Regions from separate parts of the Homo sapiens genome. Here all the other regions are linked to region 1. Evidence: fine-mapped expression QTL. A gene starts in region 1. Each other region holds a variant in brackets. All regions are shown on one strand. Distances are between the middles of the regions.

The links. PIP is the estimated chance that this variant, and not a neighbour inherited with it, causes the effect.
Region 2: its variant is the best candidate, but not a certain one, in a credible set for the expression of ST3GAL5 in blood mononuclear cells (TOPMed, PIP 0.63).
Region 3: its variant is the best candidate, but not a certain one, in a credible set for the expression of ST3GAL5 in whole blood (INTERVAL, PIP 0.86).

What each region holds. Positions count from the first base shown.
Region 1 is chr2:85,885,982-85,891,252 of GRCh38, forward strand. ST3GAL5 (ST3 beta-galactoside alpha-2,3-sialyltransferase 5) reads right to left here and starts at 3,009. Exons shown (of 7, transcript NM_003896.4): 1 at 2,843-3,009. The coding sequence starts at 2,924. It overlaps ST3GAL5-AS1 (ST3GAL5 antisense RNA 1), which reads left to right and starts at 3,299. Exons shown (of 3, transcript NR_110569.1): 1 at 3,299-3,822; 2 at 5,195-5,224. RefSeq lists enhancers at 1,591-1,710, 1,721-1,850, 2,189-2,689, 2,381-2,460 and silencers at 2,631-2,750, 2,791-3,410.
Region 2 is chr2:85,907,498-85,912,833 of GRCh38, forward strand. No RefSeq gene overlaps it. Among named protein-coding and RNA genes, the nearest start is that of ST3GAL5-AS1, 21 kb to the left of the region's middle. The variant G/A (reference allele first, on the strand shown) is at 2,942.
Region 3 is chr2:85,844,218-85,849,217 of GRCh38, forward strand. ST3GAL5 (ST3 beta-galactoside alpha-2,3-sialyltransferase 5) reads right to left here. Exons shown (of 7, transcript NM_003896.4): 4 at 3,644-3,987; 5 at 2,160-2,346; 6 at 179-337. Among named protein-coding and RNA genes, the nearest start is that of ST3GAL5, 42 kb to the right of the region's middle. RefSeq lists an enhancer at 3,288-3,347. The variant A/C (reference allele first, on the strand shown) is at 3,048.

The DNA of each region.
Region 1 (5,271 bases):
CAAATGCTGCAAACTGCCCAAATGTCCACTAACAATGCGTGACTATGTGGTATATTCACCCAATGGCCCCTATCACCAATGAGAGTGAACATGCTTCAACCATGGGCAGCATCATGAGTGATTCTCAGAAACTCAATGCTTAAGGAAAGAAGGCATACACTAGCCAGCCAGGCGCAATTGCTCACGCCTGTAATCTCAGCGCTTTGGGAGGGCAATGTGGGAGAATAGTTTGAGGCTAGGAGTTGCCAGAGACCAGCCTGGACAACACAGTGGGAGCCGTCTCTACAAAATAAAATAAAACAAATTAGCTGGGTCTGGTGGTGTGTGCCCGTAGTCTCAGCTACTGAGGAGGCTAAGGCAGGAGGATTGCTTGACTCCAGGAGTTCAAGGCTGATCCTGGGGGAGGCCGCGACTGGAGTACAACACAAGGGGAGCTCCCAGGGTCCCGGCCAGTTCTGTTTGTTGATCTAAGTGCTGAGTGCATGGGCATGTTCAGTCTGGAAAATTCATTGAGCAGGACACTTATGGTATGTCTACTTTCCTAGTATCTATGCTATACTTAAAAAAAAAAGAGGAAAAAAAAGTTTTGTCTGTCTGGTGTCCAGGTAAGACAAGCCTGGTAGTGTCCTTGAAGCCTCAAAGCTGATTTTTCTCCTGCTCCCTTACGCATTTCACTTGCTTCTCCTCTGCACGTGTGCTTAAGCTGGCTGTCTCCCGGGCGAGCCTGCGTGTCACCGTCATATTTATGGTTTCCTCCCACACCAGGCCTGTGATTCACCCCACTTTGGATGCCTTTGCTAACTTATGCCACCCACACTGATCCAGCCCTTGCTTTTCCTTCCTCAGCAGTTAGGCAGCTTGGAGCATCATTAACATGTGTATATTCCCAGTTGTTTTACTTCTGCCAGAGCTTCCCAGCAGACTAAAACCACGGAGCATGCCCTTCGGGAGTGATCTCAGTCCTCCATCGTGTCCACAGGCAGTGCGGATTAAATCGCTCCTCAGGAGCCAGGAGGGTGTGGAAGGTGAGCTTTATCCCTTCTCCCAGAAACTGCTGGCTCCAAGACACCCACCTCAGCCCTCCAGGACCTGGAATGGACTCCCACAGAGGACTCACCAACCTCTTTTCATTCATTGCCTCCCGAGGCCAACCTGCTAGATAAATTCCCCTCATTGCTGCAAATAGTCCCACAAGGCAAGCAGGGAAGAACTAGAGGAGCAAACCAAAGAACAAAGAGTGTGTTCTTATTCTGCCACGGATATATCCTTAACGTTCATCACCAATCTATTTTGATAACATGCAACAATTTACAATTTATGCCAAAATTATAAGAACTGTCCAAATAGTCGTAAATGTGAGCTCTCAAAATTTCTGCCTGTCAGCCCTCTCTCTTCCATGAGCCCCTTCATGCCTTCCTATCTCACCTGTTTCTTTTCTCGCCTAGACGAAGAAATGCTGATCATAACCCAGAATATCCAAGGGTCATTTCATCTTACAAAAACAGCAGCATCCATATAACAGGCACATGGGTAAAAGACTCAAGACATGCTGGTTATATGCTCTCGCAGTTCGTATGAATCTCTCCTTCTCCAAGTGACAGCTGGAATTCAGGTGCTTCTAGGCTCTGTTACTAGCAATGTTAGACACTCCTCGAAGCTGTCAAGCTCTCAGGATTACACAAGTGAAACCACAACCTGTCCTGACTGTATTCAAGTCTGTGCCCCTTCATGCAGCAGAAATGGATTCCTCTTCCACAGTTTCAGCAGCTGTATCCTTCCGTGGAAAAGGATTAGCAGCCATAAGCCCGGGGGAGGGCAGCTAAACACCAGAGGGCAGGAGATGAGTCTCCTTCCTCTCTGTGACACCCAGCACGGCCCTGCCACGAGGAGCAGGCAACCACTGGTGCCAGATGAAGCGCAGCACATAAAACCATTTTCCCCTTCAAATGAACGATGCCTAATTAAGCAAAAGCCGCATGCATGACTTAAGACATGAGGATATAAAATTCGTCTTCCGAGTCAGCTAGAGATTCTGCAGGATCCTCTACCCTCGTAAACGTATTTTTTTATGATTAGAAAAACCCGGGGCCTGGAAGGGACCTCGGCCATCGGCAGGGTAAGCTTCTCAGGAGAGACCATGAGCCCGAGCCCCACAGGGGGATCAGTGTCTGCCAAGGTCACCAAGCGGGTGTGAGGCAAGGGCAGGGCTCCTCGGGGATGCTCTCGGAAAACCCTGCGTTACTTACACACGCAAGGCGTACAATGAATGCACACCCGCGTCAAGCCACGGCTTACAATTCAGAAGAAATCAAAAGGTCGCCAAAACCTGTCTTCTCCGCAAGGCTGGCTGCAGAGAGGGTGCAGGGAAGGTCACCGGCAAATTTCTACCAGCGGCCCCACATCACGCCTCCCCGATGGATGCAGAGAGAGGTTTCAGGAGCTGCTAGTAACCTTGCAGGGGGTTCCCTAAGCCCATCCCAGGAAAACGAGTTAACTCGGCTCTGCTAACTCCGAAGCTTCCAGCAATGAATTAAATCCCGAGCTGCAGCGGAAAGCGGCGGGGAAAGGGCCACTGCGGCGGGACCCGACACCCGGCGGTCCGCCCCACCCTCTACCGCGTACACACCTGCGTGGGACCCCCCGCCCGGTCCACACGGCCCGGGACCACGACCCTCCGCCCGCGCCCCAGCCGGGCTCGCCTGAGGGTGTCGTGCCCTGGGCGCTGCCCGCGGGGTTCGAGGCGGAAACGCCGCGCCCAGCCGGCCCGGGAAGAGACAAGTCGCCGCCGCAGCCCCCAGCCCGCGGGCCCCCGCGACGCCGAGGAGGGGGCTGCGCCACGTACCTCGGCCGGCAGGTGCCGCCGCTGCCTCGGTCCGCGGCTGCAGGGGACGCCGCTCCGCGCAGCCCGCCGCCTTCGTCCGCATACTAATGAGGGGGCGCCGGCCGGCCGCCAGCCCGGTACCCCGCGCCCCCACCCGCCCCCAGCGCCGCTCTCGCGCCCATTCAGCTGGGGGCCGCCGCTCCCCCGCTCAGATGCGGAGGAGGGGCGCGTGGGCGGGGTCTGACGTCACGAGGACGCGGACGGCCAATCGGAGAGCACGATGCCTCCGCGGCGGCCCCCGCCCCCGGGCGCGCGGCCAGTCAGCCCTGCGGTGCGGTGGGCATTGCCAGAGCAGGGCGCCCCCTGCAGGGACGCACCCGGGGCGGGGGCCAGGCTGGGGCGAGCCCCCCTTGGTTCTGGAGAGGAAATGACATACAGTTTGTGAAAGCATAAATATTCGTGAAAATAAGAAAATTCAGGAAGGAAACAAAGCTTAAGGCAGTGATTGATAGGTTATTTCTTGGACACAGCTGAACGTATACTGTGCGCCTGCAACTTTCCGGTGGTTTCGGACCGGACTTCAGTGAAGCCAGTGAAGTCGGTCGACTTGCAGAACTTCCTTTCAGAGGGGCGTACACAGCACCGCGGCCGTGTGCCTGTGATCTCCTTCTGAGTTTGAAAAAGAAGATCCTAGACACCGAGCCAAATATGTTTGCATAAACCGGGAGACTTGTGGCTCTATTTTGTAACAGCTTGGCGCAGGGCAGCTGGTTTGGAGATGTCTCTGTTCTTCCCTTGGTGGGGGTGCCGGAAAAAATGTGCTGCCTGGGCGATCGAGGTTGGGGCAAAAGCGTTGCAAAGGAAAAGGTGGGAGGACTCTACTTTCACATTTCCCAAAAGAGTTTTACCATAAGACTATTTCTGGATTGTTCTAACGTGAGGATATTGGGAGCATTTTGAAAATACTGGAGGAAAAGCTGTCACTGGGCGATTTAAATCCGGTAAGTTGGCCAAGGCAGAGCAGCTGCTGGGGTCAGCGACAGCTGACCCTTGCAGCTGAGTATCTTGCCCTCTTAATCTTGGAGATCAGCCCAAGGCCCATGTGTTACAGGAAAGGGGTCCCGATCTAGACCCCAAGAGAGGGTTCTTCGATCTCACGCAAGAAACAATTCAGAGTAAGTCCACAGTGCAAAGTAAAAGCAAGTTTATTAAGAAAGTAAAGTGGTGGCTGGGCACAGTGGCTCACGCGTAATCCCAGCACTTTGGGAGGCTGAGACGGACAGATCACCTGATGTCAGGAGTTCAAGACCAGCTGGCCAACATGGCAAAACCCCGTCTCTACTAGAAATACAAATATTGGCCGGGCGTGGTGGCGCAAGCCTGTTGTCTCAGCTACTCACGGGGCTGAGGCAGGAGAATCGCTTGAACCCGGGAGGCAGAGGCTACAGTGAGCCGAGATCGCCACTGCACTCCAGCAGGGCATTCCTGAAAATAAGAGGAGGGACATATCCAACTAAGGTACAATGCTTGTAATGCTTGTATATATGGGCAGATGTCTTCTGCTACAAGGGTTTGTGATAAAGGATTAATTTTCCCTAATTACTATATTTTGCAATAATCAATATTATTATTTTTAAAGCAAAATTAGGAATGCCTTTGTTCTCCAGATATCGGGATATCTGGACTCTCTCAAGTCTGGGTCTGTTTAGTAAGCATTATTAATTTGTTCTCTTAACCATAAACACCTAGAGGCTAGGAATGCCTAGCTTTCAGGAAATGCAGCCTAGCAAGTCCCAGCCTCATTTTTCTAGCCCTCACTCAAAATGGAGGCGCTCTGGTTTGAACACTTCTGACACATGTGCTTGATGCAACACTCTTTACCTCTCTTTGTCTCCCCTGTCCTTCCCCTTCTCTTCCAGATTCCCCTTGTCGGCAAAGCCAGGCGCTGATAGCGTTATGGCTGCCATGAGAGTCAGCAGTATCCCAGCTTCCAAGGATGGGTGTAAGGTGGGGGTGAGGAAGAAAAGGAACTTGAAGCTGCCTCCTGTCCCAGAATCACAAGACATCTGTTAAGCCCTTACTACCTCATTCACTCCACTCACATTAGGTTGACCCACTTGGGCAGCAAGACAAGCAGGCCTGCAAACTTCCTTTTCTTCATCAGCCACAGAGACATCCTCAGCTATTATTCTGGATTAAGGCAGAGATCTCCAAACAGCAGACTAAGATCAGCCTCTAGATCTCAAAGCCTTACTGTTATCTCTCCAAGTCAGTGGCTGATCTCAGAGAAGCTTCTGAATAGTGACTAGCAAAGAGTCACTCAGGCTACTTACAAATCCAGGACAGCAGCGTTTTTTTTTTTTTCTTTTTTAGAGACAGATTCACTCTGTCATCCAAGCTGGAGTGCAGTGGCACGATCTTGGCTCACTGCAACCTCCACCTCCTGGGCT
Region 2 (5,336 bases), 22 kb after region 1:
CAATTCTTCTGCCTCAGCCTCCCAAGTAGCTGGGATTATAGGCACCCACTACCACACCTGGCTATTTTTTTTGTATTTTTAGTACAGGTGGGGTTTCACCATGTTGGCCAGGCTGGTCTCGAACTCCTGACCTCAGGTGATCCACCCGTCTCAGCCTCCCAAAGTGCTGGGATTACAGGTTTGAGCCACGGCACCCAGCCCCAAGTCTGTGGTTTGAGGAGGCTGTGGTGTCAAACAGTGGTTCTGGCCTTCCGCAATTCAAGCTCGAGACTTGGCTTTCAGTCAAATATTCCTCATTTGTTTGCTTTCCTGTTTCCAAAATGTTATTGTTGTTATCTCCCCATAAAATCCTTTAACATAAAACATCACTGTAAGCCATGGTAGTGGACTCACGGAGGTTTACATAGAGAGTTGTCCACCTGCACGTCCCACGACAGCCAAATCCCCAGGCCTCCCCCATGCAAGGCCACACCCAGAGCCATGTGCAGATGGGAAGACAGGCCCCCGTAGGTTCAGGGCATACTTGGTCTTATGTGGGCTTGTTCTCAAAGCAGTGAATCAGCAGTGTAAAGATGGGGGCGGAAGGGCAGATGCAGCTCACCCTTGTGTCTCATGTGGGCACGCCCAAAGTTCAGCAGTCTTGGCAGTTTGGATGGAGGAGAAGAGCTGCAGGCCCTCCACCGTTTCTACCCCCAGGCATCAGCATCCTGAACCCACTGACACGCTCATACACGACATTAATCTGCCCTTCTAGAAACCATGCCTGTTCTTCTAGAAACCAGAACCATGTGTGGGTTCTGATGCCTGAACTTGTGTCTGAGCCAGCCCAAGTTCTTGCCAATCTCTTCTTTTCTGCACCTGGGTGACAAGGTTTCACAGTTTTCCATTTATGTACCTTTCTGGGCTTCCCATGCACAGGTCTTGTCATAACCTGCCACACATCAAGGTTCTGGAAAGTGGAAAATGTGCAGGGGTTTCACCCTCAAACTCAAAACTGCCTCTAGGTAAGCAAGGCTGGGCCCCTTGGAGGTCTCCCACCCTTCAGAAGGCTTAGGGCCTAGACAGGGTCACCACTAGCCTTTGAGCAAATTAGAAAAAAGCGCTTATTGGAATTTGCATAATCAATATACAAAGCTCTAATGACTATAAGGAGAATGTATCCTCTTTGATGTGGTGTCCTTGTGCAGTGCACCACCTGGGCAACTGTACACAGTGGCCTTGAGTCCAAAGTCACAGCAGGCCAAGTGGCCTCTTTTGGTCTTTCTTCTTAGCTCACAGTCAATATTACCTTTATCTTTCCATCCTGTTGCTTAGGAGAGGCCTGGTGGAAAAAGAGTCATAACAGGCAGTGAGAAGCAAGAATGTTGTTTCAGTTATAATAAAACTGAAATCTATAGCTAGACACCCAATATATGTCTATTTTATTATTTTTAAACTAATAGACTTCGGTTTTGGGATCAGTGTTAGGTTTGTAGAAAAATTGAGCAGAAAATACACAGAGCTCCCACATACTCCCTCACCACCACCAAGTTGCCCGTTATTAACATAGTATAGTACATTAGTTACAACTGATGAGCCAATCTTGATATAATGATATTGTTAATTGAAGTCCATGGTTTACATTAGCATTCACTGTTAGCATTGCACATTCCATAGGTTCTGACACATGTATGATGACATGGATCCACCACTGTAGTATCATACAGAGTAGTTTCACTGCCCTAACAATCCCCTGCCCCACCCTCCCTTGCCTGGAACTCCTCACTACATTATTTTTTTAATCCTACATTCCCTGCTCCTTAATCAACACTGACGATTCAGACCCCAACTCCATTCCCTTCCTCTGTGGGATAGAGTAGGAGAGGGAGGGGTGGAGAGGGGCTGGGAGCTCCCCTTGGACGCCAACCCTCCTCAGCCTTTTGTTCTTTTCTCTGCTCACCCAATTTTCCTCTAGGAAGGAGATCAGCTGCACAAATCAAGAAATGCTAAAACTACTGCTTTCTTCCCCTTCCTCCTCCTCGGGCAGCCACATCAGATCAGAAGTGAGAGTTGTAGGCACTCACTTAAGAAAAGCATCCAAGGCCAGGCGGTGGCTCGCACTTGTAATCCTAGCACCTTGGCAGGCCCAGGCACAAGGATCGCCAGAGCCCAGGAGTTTGAGACCAGCCTGGGTAACACAGTGAGACCCCATCTCTATAAAAAATAAACAAAATTAGCTGGGCACGATGGTGCACGCCTGTAGCCCCAGCTATTCTGGAGGCTGAGGTGGGAGGATTGCTTAAGCCTGGGAGGTAGAGGCTGCAGTGGGTCAAGATCATGCCACTGTACTCCAGCCTGGGTGAGAGAGTGAGACTATCTCAAATAATAAAAATACAATAACGGCCGGGCTCGGTGGCTCACGTCTGTAATCCCAGCACTTTGGGAGGCCAAGGCGGGTGGATCATGAGGTCAGGAGTTTGAGACCAAACTGGCCAACATGGTGAAACCCTGTCTCTACTAAAAATACAAAAATTAGCTGTGCATGTCTCTAATCCCAGCTACTCGGGAGGCTGAGGCAGGAGAATTGCTTGAACCTGGGAGGTGGAGGTTGCAGTGAGCCGAGATTGTGCCACTGTACTCCAGCCTGGGCAATAAGAGCGAGATTCCATCTCAAAATAAATAAATAAATAAATAAAAATAAAATAAAACAAAAAGAAAAGCATCCAATGAAGACATAAGTCTTTTAATCTTGTGACATATTAAAACATTTATAAATACACATTTTACTATTTTATCTGAATATTGGTAGAAAGCATCTGCTGCATTGTATTGGCAAAGGACACTGGTTGAAAATAGGGTTTGGAGGCCAGACGTGGTTGCTCACGCCTGTAATCCCAGCATTTTGGGAGGCTGAGGCAGATAGATCACGAGGTCAGGAGATCGAGACCATCCTGGCTAACAC[G/A]GTGAAGCCCAGTCTCTACTAAAAATACAAAAAATTAGCCGGGTGTGGTGGCATGCGCCTGTAGTCCCAGCTACTCAGGAGGCTGAGGCAGGAGAATCTCTTGAACCCAGGAGGTGGAGGTTGCAGTGAGCGGAGATCAATCCACTGCACTCCAGCCTGGGCGACCGAGAGAGACTCTGTCTCAAAAAAAAAAAAAAAAAAAAAAAAAATAGGGTTTGGGAATCCTGTTTTGCCTTGTGTAATCCTGAGAAAGAGTTTCCAGTAACAGTCAAACCATGTTCCTGCCAAAAAACAACTCTCAGTTGTCCTGTTTGTGATGCAAAGACAAAACCATGTGGGCAAAATGATAATCAAATATTTAGGAACTTAAAGGGCGTTGGTGACTGTTAGTAGGATGCACTGAGTTATGCTGCAGTAACAACCCCCAAAGGTCAGTGTCTGAAAACATTGATTTCTTGGTCACATTACATGCTCCTCCTGCATTTGCAGGGGTAATGGAGGTGAACAGCTGAAGTGTTCTGCCAACTACTATTAATCAGAAGGATGTTGGCCATGAAGCTAGCCTTCGATTAGATTGTGAAGAGGTCTGGAGAGGGACGTGGGCAGGGCTGGCTTTATGGGCATTAATATATATATTTTTAAATGTAGTCTCACTATGTTGCCCAGGCTGAAGTGCGGTGGCTCTGTGTGATCATAGTGCACTACAGCCTCGAACTCTTGGGCTCAAGCAATCCTCCTGCCTCAGTGTTTGGAATAGCTGAGACTATAGGCATATGCCACCATGCCCAGCCTAATCATTTTTGAACAAGAGCTCTGCATTTTCATTTTGCACTGCACTCTGCAAATGACTATATATAGCCATCGTGGTCCCAGGGGAGGGGCCAGGAAAGCCAGAATGATAGGCGGGCACTCTGGGAGAGGGGAGCAGCAATGATTTACCAACGATCTGAAAGTGTTTCAAATCATTTAACAATTGGTCTGATAACCAGTACGTATGAGCTGAATATCAGCTCTCTACATGGGTGGGTTGACATGATAGTCCCTGGAAGAGGCCCACATTCATTAAGACAATCATTTGGGGTAAATGTGATTTTTTGTTTCTTTTTTTTGAGACAGAGTCCCGCTCTGTCGCCCAGGCTGGAGTGCAGTGGCACCATCTCGGCTCACTGCAAGCTTCACCTCCTGGGTTCACACCATTCTCCTGCCTCAGCCTCCCAAGTAGCTGGGACCACAGGCGCCGACCACCACGCCCAGCTAATTTTTTGTATTTTTAGTAGAAATGGGTTTTCACCGTGTTAGCCAGGATGGTCTCGATCTCCTGACCTCGTGATCCACCCACCTCGGCCTCCCAAAGTGCTGGGATTACAGGCGTGAGCCACCGTGCCCGGCCTTTTTTTTGAGACAGGGTCTTGCTCTGTTGCCCAGAGTGGACTGCAGTGGGCTGAAGTGATCCTCACACCTCAGCCTCCCAAGTAACTGGGCATACATCACCATGCTCTTTTTTTTTCTGTAGCTATCTGCTTAGGAACAAAAGGAAAGGCAGTTTCTTGAATGAGTCAGCTTTCAGCTTAATTTTTTCCTTTAGGCATAGTGAATTGGAGTCCCAGGTTTTTATTCTTTTCATGAGAGCAAACTTTTGTTTGCAAACAGCATTATCATTTTCATTACTCTGCGGTTGTTCTCTTTAAAAAAAGAGAAAAAAGAAAAAAATCCCTTAGCCCAGGATTAGCAAGTATCCAACATGCATACTCCTGCTTTCCCCTTCTTATCCTCTTCTTAGCAAGGGCTGTCATGACTGGTTAACCATATTACTCCCTCCAGCTGGTCCTGGATGTAGCCACAGAAGCCTCTACACAACACTCCAATCAGTCGCTAAGAACATAGCAGGCTGGGACCAAGGAAAACCCCCGCCTTCTCAGTGCCAGCCTTTAGTCAGATCCTGAAGTGTTTCTGCCTTGTGACAGCCGTGCTACAGATATTGTTGTGTCATAGTTTGTCTGGTCTTTGTTTTTGGATTCATGGGACAGAGTTTCTAAACCCTTGGAATTTTCTGAGTGGTAGAAGAATATTTGTTATCCGTGGTGAGCCCCTGGGATTACTCCTGAGTTTATGCTAACAAGGTGACTAATGGCGGGCCCATGGAGGCTGGCCAGGCTGGAAAGACCAACTACATATGTGATTAGAGGGTTGGAATTTGAGCCTAGAGGGGTAGGAAGCTGGAGATCAAGTTTGATCATGTGGCCGAGTCACTCAATCATGCCTATGTAATGAAACCCCAATAAAAACTCTAGATACTGGCTGGGCACGGTGGTTCATGCCTGTAATCCCAGCACTTTGGGAGGCTGAGGCGGGCGGATCACCTGAGGTCAGGAGTTTGAGACCAGCCTGGCCAACA
Region 3 (5,000 bases), 42 kb before region 1:
TTAAACAATGAGGAGCCCTGCAGCCAAGTGCAGAGTGGTAAACACACATGGAGCATCTAATCACAGGCTGGGTTTCTCCACTGGAGATGCTTCTGGGTATACAGTTGAGCCAAAGTGAAATTTGTACACATCGCCCCTCAAACAGGGAATGATTAACTTTGAGTAGCAACAAAAATACCTTATCTCGGCCCCAGAACCTTGACTGAGGCTCTGAGTACTGAAGGATGTCAAAGGCAGTCTCTTTGATGATAACTGGATTCAAAATCCTGAAATGTTTTGGCTGCAGTGGGATTTTTTCTGCCACCTGCTTCCAAAAGAAGAGTCGTACCCAGAATGGCTAAGGAAAGCAAGCAAGCAGTTGTTAGTCATCCTTCTAGGGGAGGGGAGAAAGCATTCCCACTCATCAGACCAAGGCTGTGGGTGTGACCCCATGTGGCCCTGTGCACTGCCTTCTGAAGCAATCTACTCCTATAGATTGCAAAAGCTACGCAAATCCGGCACTCCAACTCAAAAAAGTAACTCTGAAATAGCCACTTCACACAGGCGGCACTGGACAAAGAGATGAATTGCAGAACCAGCTTGTATTTGTTTGAGGTAGACATTCCTCAATGGTGCTAACACCATCATTTTGTCTAGGGAAGCCCAAGTGAATAGGTCCAATTTAAGGCTATTAAGTGCTGAAACTGCCCTCACCTCGCATCCTCTCTCACTTACTCTATTTCCTAGTCCCATGAAGTCGTTTCATATATGCTTCATCTTCCAACTAGAACTTCTGCCCAATAGAAAATCCAGAAGACCATGATGACTGATATAGAATCAGCTTTGGAAATACAAATTTGTCATCACATGGAGTTTACGTGAAAAGTTGAATACGTCCCATTAGTTTCACAGACAGCTAGTTTGTGCATATGTCTATACATGTGCATACACTCCTCGACAGCTGACCTCTGAAATGTATTTGAATATAATGGGTGAGACTATAAAGTAATGTGACCAATAAAGACAAAAGGAATATGACCAAGTGAGGGCCATCTCCTCCATAGCTGCCCTTCTGGAATGCCATGAATTTATTCCAACAAGGGAACCACTGACCAAAGCATTTTTGGAGCTCTTTAGAGTATTCCTTGATTTTTATATGCTTTTGAATACCCTCAAAAAGGCTTATATCCATCTAAGTAAGTCTAATTTCTGGAACTAGCCAAAAGCTATGCAAGTTCATGTCTGGAGAACAAGGTGGGTGAACAACCTCAGTAACAGCAATTTTGGTCACAATCTGGATATTCCCATTAAGCAATGATCACCATTTTCATGCGACTCTTAATTAGGTCTGGCCCATCCATGCAGAGTGTACAGCTGTACACAGACATAGGAGGAAAGCACCCACTCCTGGATTGACACAACTGCAGCAGGGCCTCTTTATAACCATCTCACTCCATTCCCGCCACCAAAAGGAAAAATACTCCCACTGTATGGTACTTTCCGATTTCAACTGGGGGGCAGGGTCTCATTTGTCTCTCAGGAGTGTGAAATTTCACCCATGAAATCAAAAGCACTGAGGAAGTGCCGGTGCTGAGACCGCACCCAACAAATCTCCCACTAGCTCCTAGTATTTGTTCAGTTTAAATTATAAACACCCTCACCACTGTCTCTACCAGGAATTCTCCAACCTGCCCATGTGCAAGAACCACTGGAAGAGGGCCAGGTGCAGTGGCTCATGTTTGTAATCCCAGCACTTTTGGAGGCTGAGGCGGGTGGATCTCCTGAGGTCAGGAGTTTGAGACCAGCCTGGCCAACATGGTGAAACCCCATCTCTATTAAAAATACAAAAATTAACTGGGCGTGGTGGCAGGCGCCTGTAATCCTAGCTACTCGGGAGGCTGAGGCAGGAGAATTGCTTGAACCTGGGATGCGGAGGCTGCAGAGAGCCAAGACTGCACCACTGCACTCCAGCCCTCTAGCCTGGACAACAGAATGAGACTCCATCCCCAAAAAAAAGAATTGCTGAGGGGTTTCTACAAAGAGAGTGATCATCATTTGAAAGACAACACATAAGTATGCATTCCGCTCTGCGTGTTTAAAAATAAAAGGCTATAATTACAACTAAGTAAGACTCCTTCACTTTTTACTAAGGCAGATTTAATAGAAGTATTAGTGCTTACCAGGGTTTCCTTTTTTACCATTGCTTGAAGCCAGTTGAAATCAACACTCTTAAATAAAACAGCAACAAATAAGTCATTGGAATAATATTCAAGGTCAGACAGTGGTGCGCCCTCTGGATAAGTCATCCTTATAGTAGTTTTATTTCCAACATGTTCTGAATATCCCTCAACTGGTGCACTGTTTAACCTATTTAAATAAAAAGGACAAAGACACACTGACAAAGCAGGCCATCAACCATCTCTGTACACCAGGCAGTATCCATGTCATGTCCTCCACGTCTTCTTATGACTAAGAATGAGTGCATGGTTTGCAGCCTCATCTCCCCTCCCAGCTCTGTCTTTCTAGGATTTCGAGGAATGCAGCCTTTAGTACTTGAGCGAACACTTGTATCTAATCCCTGAATGTCAAGCAATTTCATCTAGCCCTAATATTTTTACTCAATCTAAGCATATTACATTTGGGACTTTCTCTGGGTGCCAGTAAAATATCCTCAGAAATTTTCCATTGTGCTCAGATGTTAGTTCTTGCCAGAATTTCAAAAAAGGAATCAGAAGGGAAAATCTAGTCCACCATGCCTGGCTGACTTTTTGATTTTCTGTAGAGACAAGCTGTCTCTATGTTGCCCAGGCTGGTCTTGAACTCCTGAGCTCAAGCGATCCTCCTGCCTTGGCCTCCCAAAGTGCTGGGATTATAGGCATGAGCCACTGCGCCTGGCCAGAAAACAATTTTTAAACAGTGAAACCAAAAAAGAATCTAGGATGACTGCCTATTGGCTATCATGGTGAGTCTGAACTTCTCTGTGTGCCTTCCATGTCCCAGCCAGCACTGCCTTCCAGGACTCACTGGCCCCAAGCCCCTTCTCCAGAAGCCAGGCCCCTCATTGACTC[A/C]AGTCTCTTGCTGTGTCCTCTTCTTGCCCCTGTCTGGGAGTTGTGGTCCTTTGCTGTTTTACTTGAATCTACCCACCTTCCAAATCTCACTTCCTCTGACAAGGTTCTGCCACTTACTGTAGCCAGCAGCATGCTCCTCCAACTTAGGGTCAGTATGACAGTTTGGAGCATCCAACCATTTTGTGTTTTTGTTTCAACTTCTCAAACGTTAAGTCCCTTGTGGGCAGGGACTGTGAAGAGCTTCCTGTGTCCCTCACTGTTCCTGGAGCCACACTGACCAAGAGCAGTGCACTGAGTTCTAGAGGAGAAAGGTTGGTTTTAAAAGCGATGTACCCCAGTCTGGGCAATTCGGAGAAACCCCATCTCTACTAAAAATATAAAAAATTAGCCACGCGTGGTGTGTGCCTGGGGTCCCAGCTACTGGGGAGGCTGTGGTGGGAGGATCTCCTGAGCCTGGGAAGTTGAGGCTGCAGTGAGCTGAGATCACACCACTGCACTCCAGCCTGGACAACAGGAGTGAGACCCTGCCTCAAAAAATAAAATAAAATAAAAACAATAAAAATAAGTAAACAAACAAACAAAAAAAACCAATGTACCTTATCACAACATCGAACTGGTTCAGGGTGTGGCCCAGTTCTAATCCGTGCAGTATTCCTCCGCTTCCAATAACCACACAGCGCCGACAGGTCTTGGCTTTCAAGTGTTCAGGGAGGTCGTGCTCTGGCAAGAGTTCCAAGAGGGTCTGGACTTTACTGGAGAACTTCCGGAACCCAAAAGGAGGATCGTACTTGGACTCAGCTTCACTGTCTTTGGGGGCCTTCTGCACAAAAGGGAGTAAGTCCACGCTATACCTGTGCTCAAATAACAGCGCCATTGATGTCTTGGCAAACTTGGGACGACATTCCTTCTGCAAGACTTGCTGAGCATATTTCTGAGCTCTCTGGAATGAAATCACACCAATCTGGGTTTTAAAAACTCTCCTGCATTAAAAATATACTCTTCTAGATGACAATTTGTCCTATGATGTCTGATGTAGCTCCCGTGTTGATTACTGTCTTTTAACACAGAATATTTGCTTTTTAGAGTTAAGTTTGGCTCAGAAACTTGAAGAAACAACCTGGGAGAATCACATGACAAGGAGATAAACACAGCAGGGTATTCATTTCATTGCACAGGCAAAGCAAGAAGGACTCCCGCCTCCCACCCCCAGCCTAACACTGTTCAAATACATTTGGGGTGAAAATGTACTTCGGGGTGTCTAAGACTTCATGTTTCATAAAATTCTGATACATGCTACAACATAGTTAAACTTTGAGGACATTATGCTAAGTGAAGCCAGTCACAAAGAGACAAATACTGTATGACCTGACTTATATGAGGTATCTAAAGTAGTCAAATTCATAAAAACATGGTTACCAGGGTTGAAGAGAGGGAGAAAAGGGGAGTTGTTTAATAGGTACAGCGTTTCGGTTTTGCAAGATGAAAACATTCTAGAAATTTGTTTCACAAGAGTTTAAATATACTTAATGCTGCCAAATGGTACATTTAAAAATAATTATGATGGTAAATTTTATGTTTTTTTTAACCACGATTAAAAAAAAGGTTTCATATATCAGGTTCTCATCTAGCAGGATGACAAACAGGCTTATTTATCAGTTGAGATACAGAATGTCACAGTCTAGAATGCAAATTACCTGAAAGAATCAGGGAATGTCCCCTTAACACAGAAATTGCATTGGTTTCAAAGCATTTTCCCAGCCTGCATTTCCATATGCATTTTAATGTTTTGCCTCAGCCAGGAGCTGCGTGAATGCAACAAAACTCAGAGGAAAGGCGGGCATGGCGGGTCACACCTATAATCTCAGCACTTTGGGAGGCCAAGGTGAGAGGGTTGCTTGAGCCCAGGAGTTCGAGGCTAGCCTGGGCAACATGGTGAGACCCCACCTATACAAA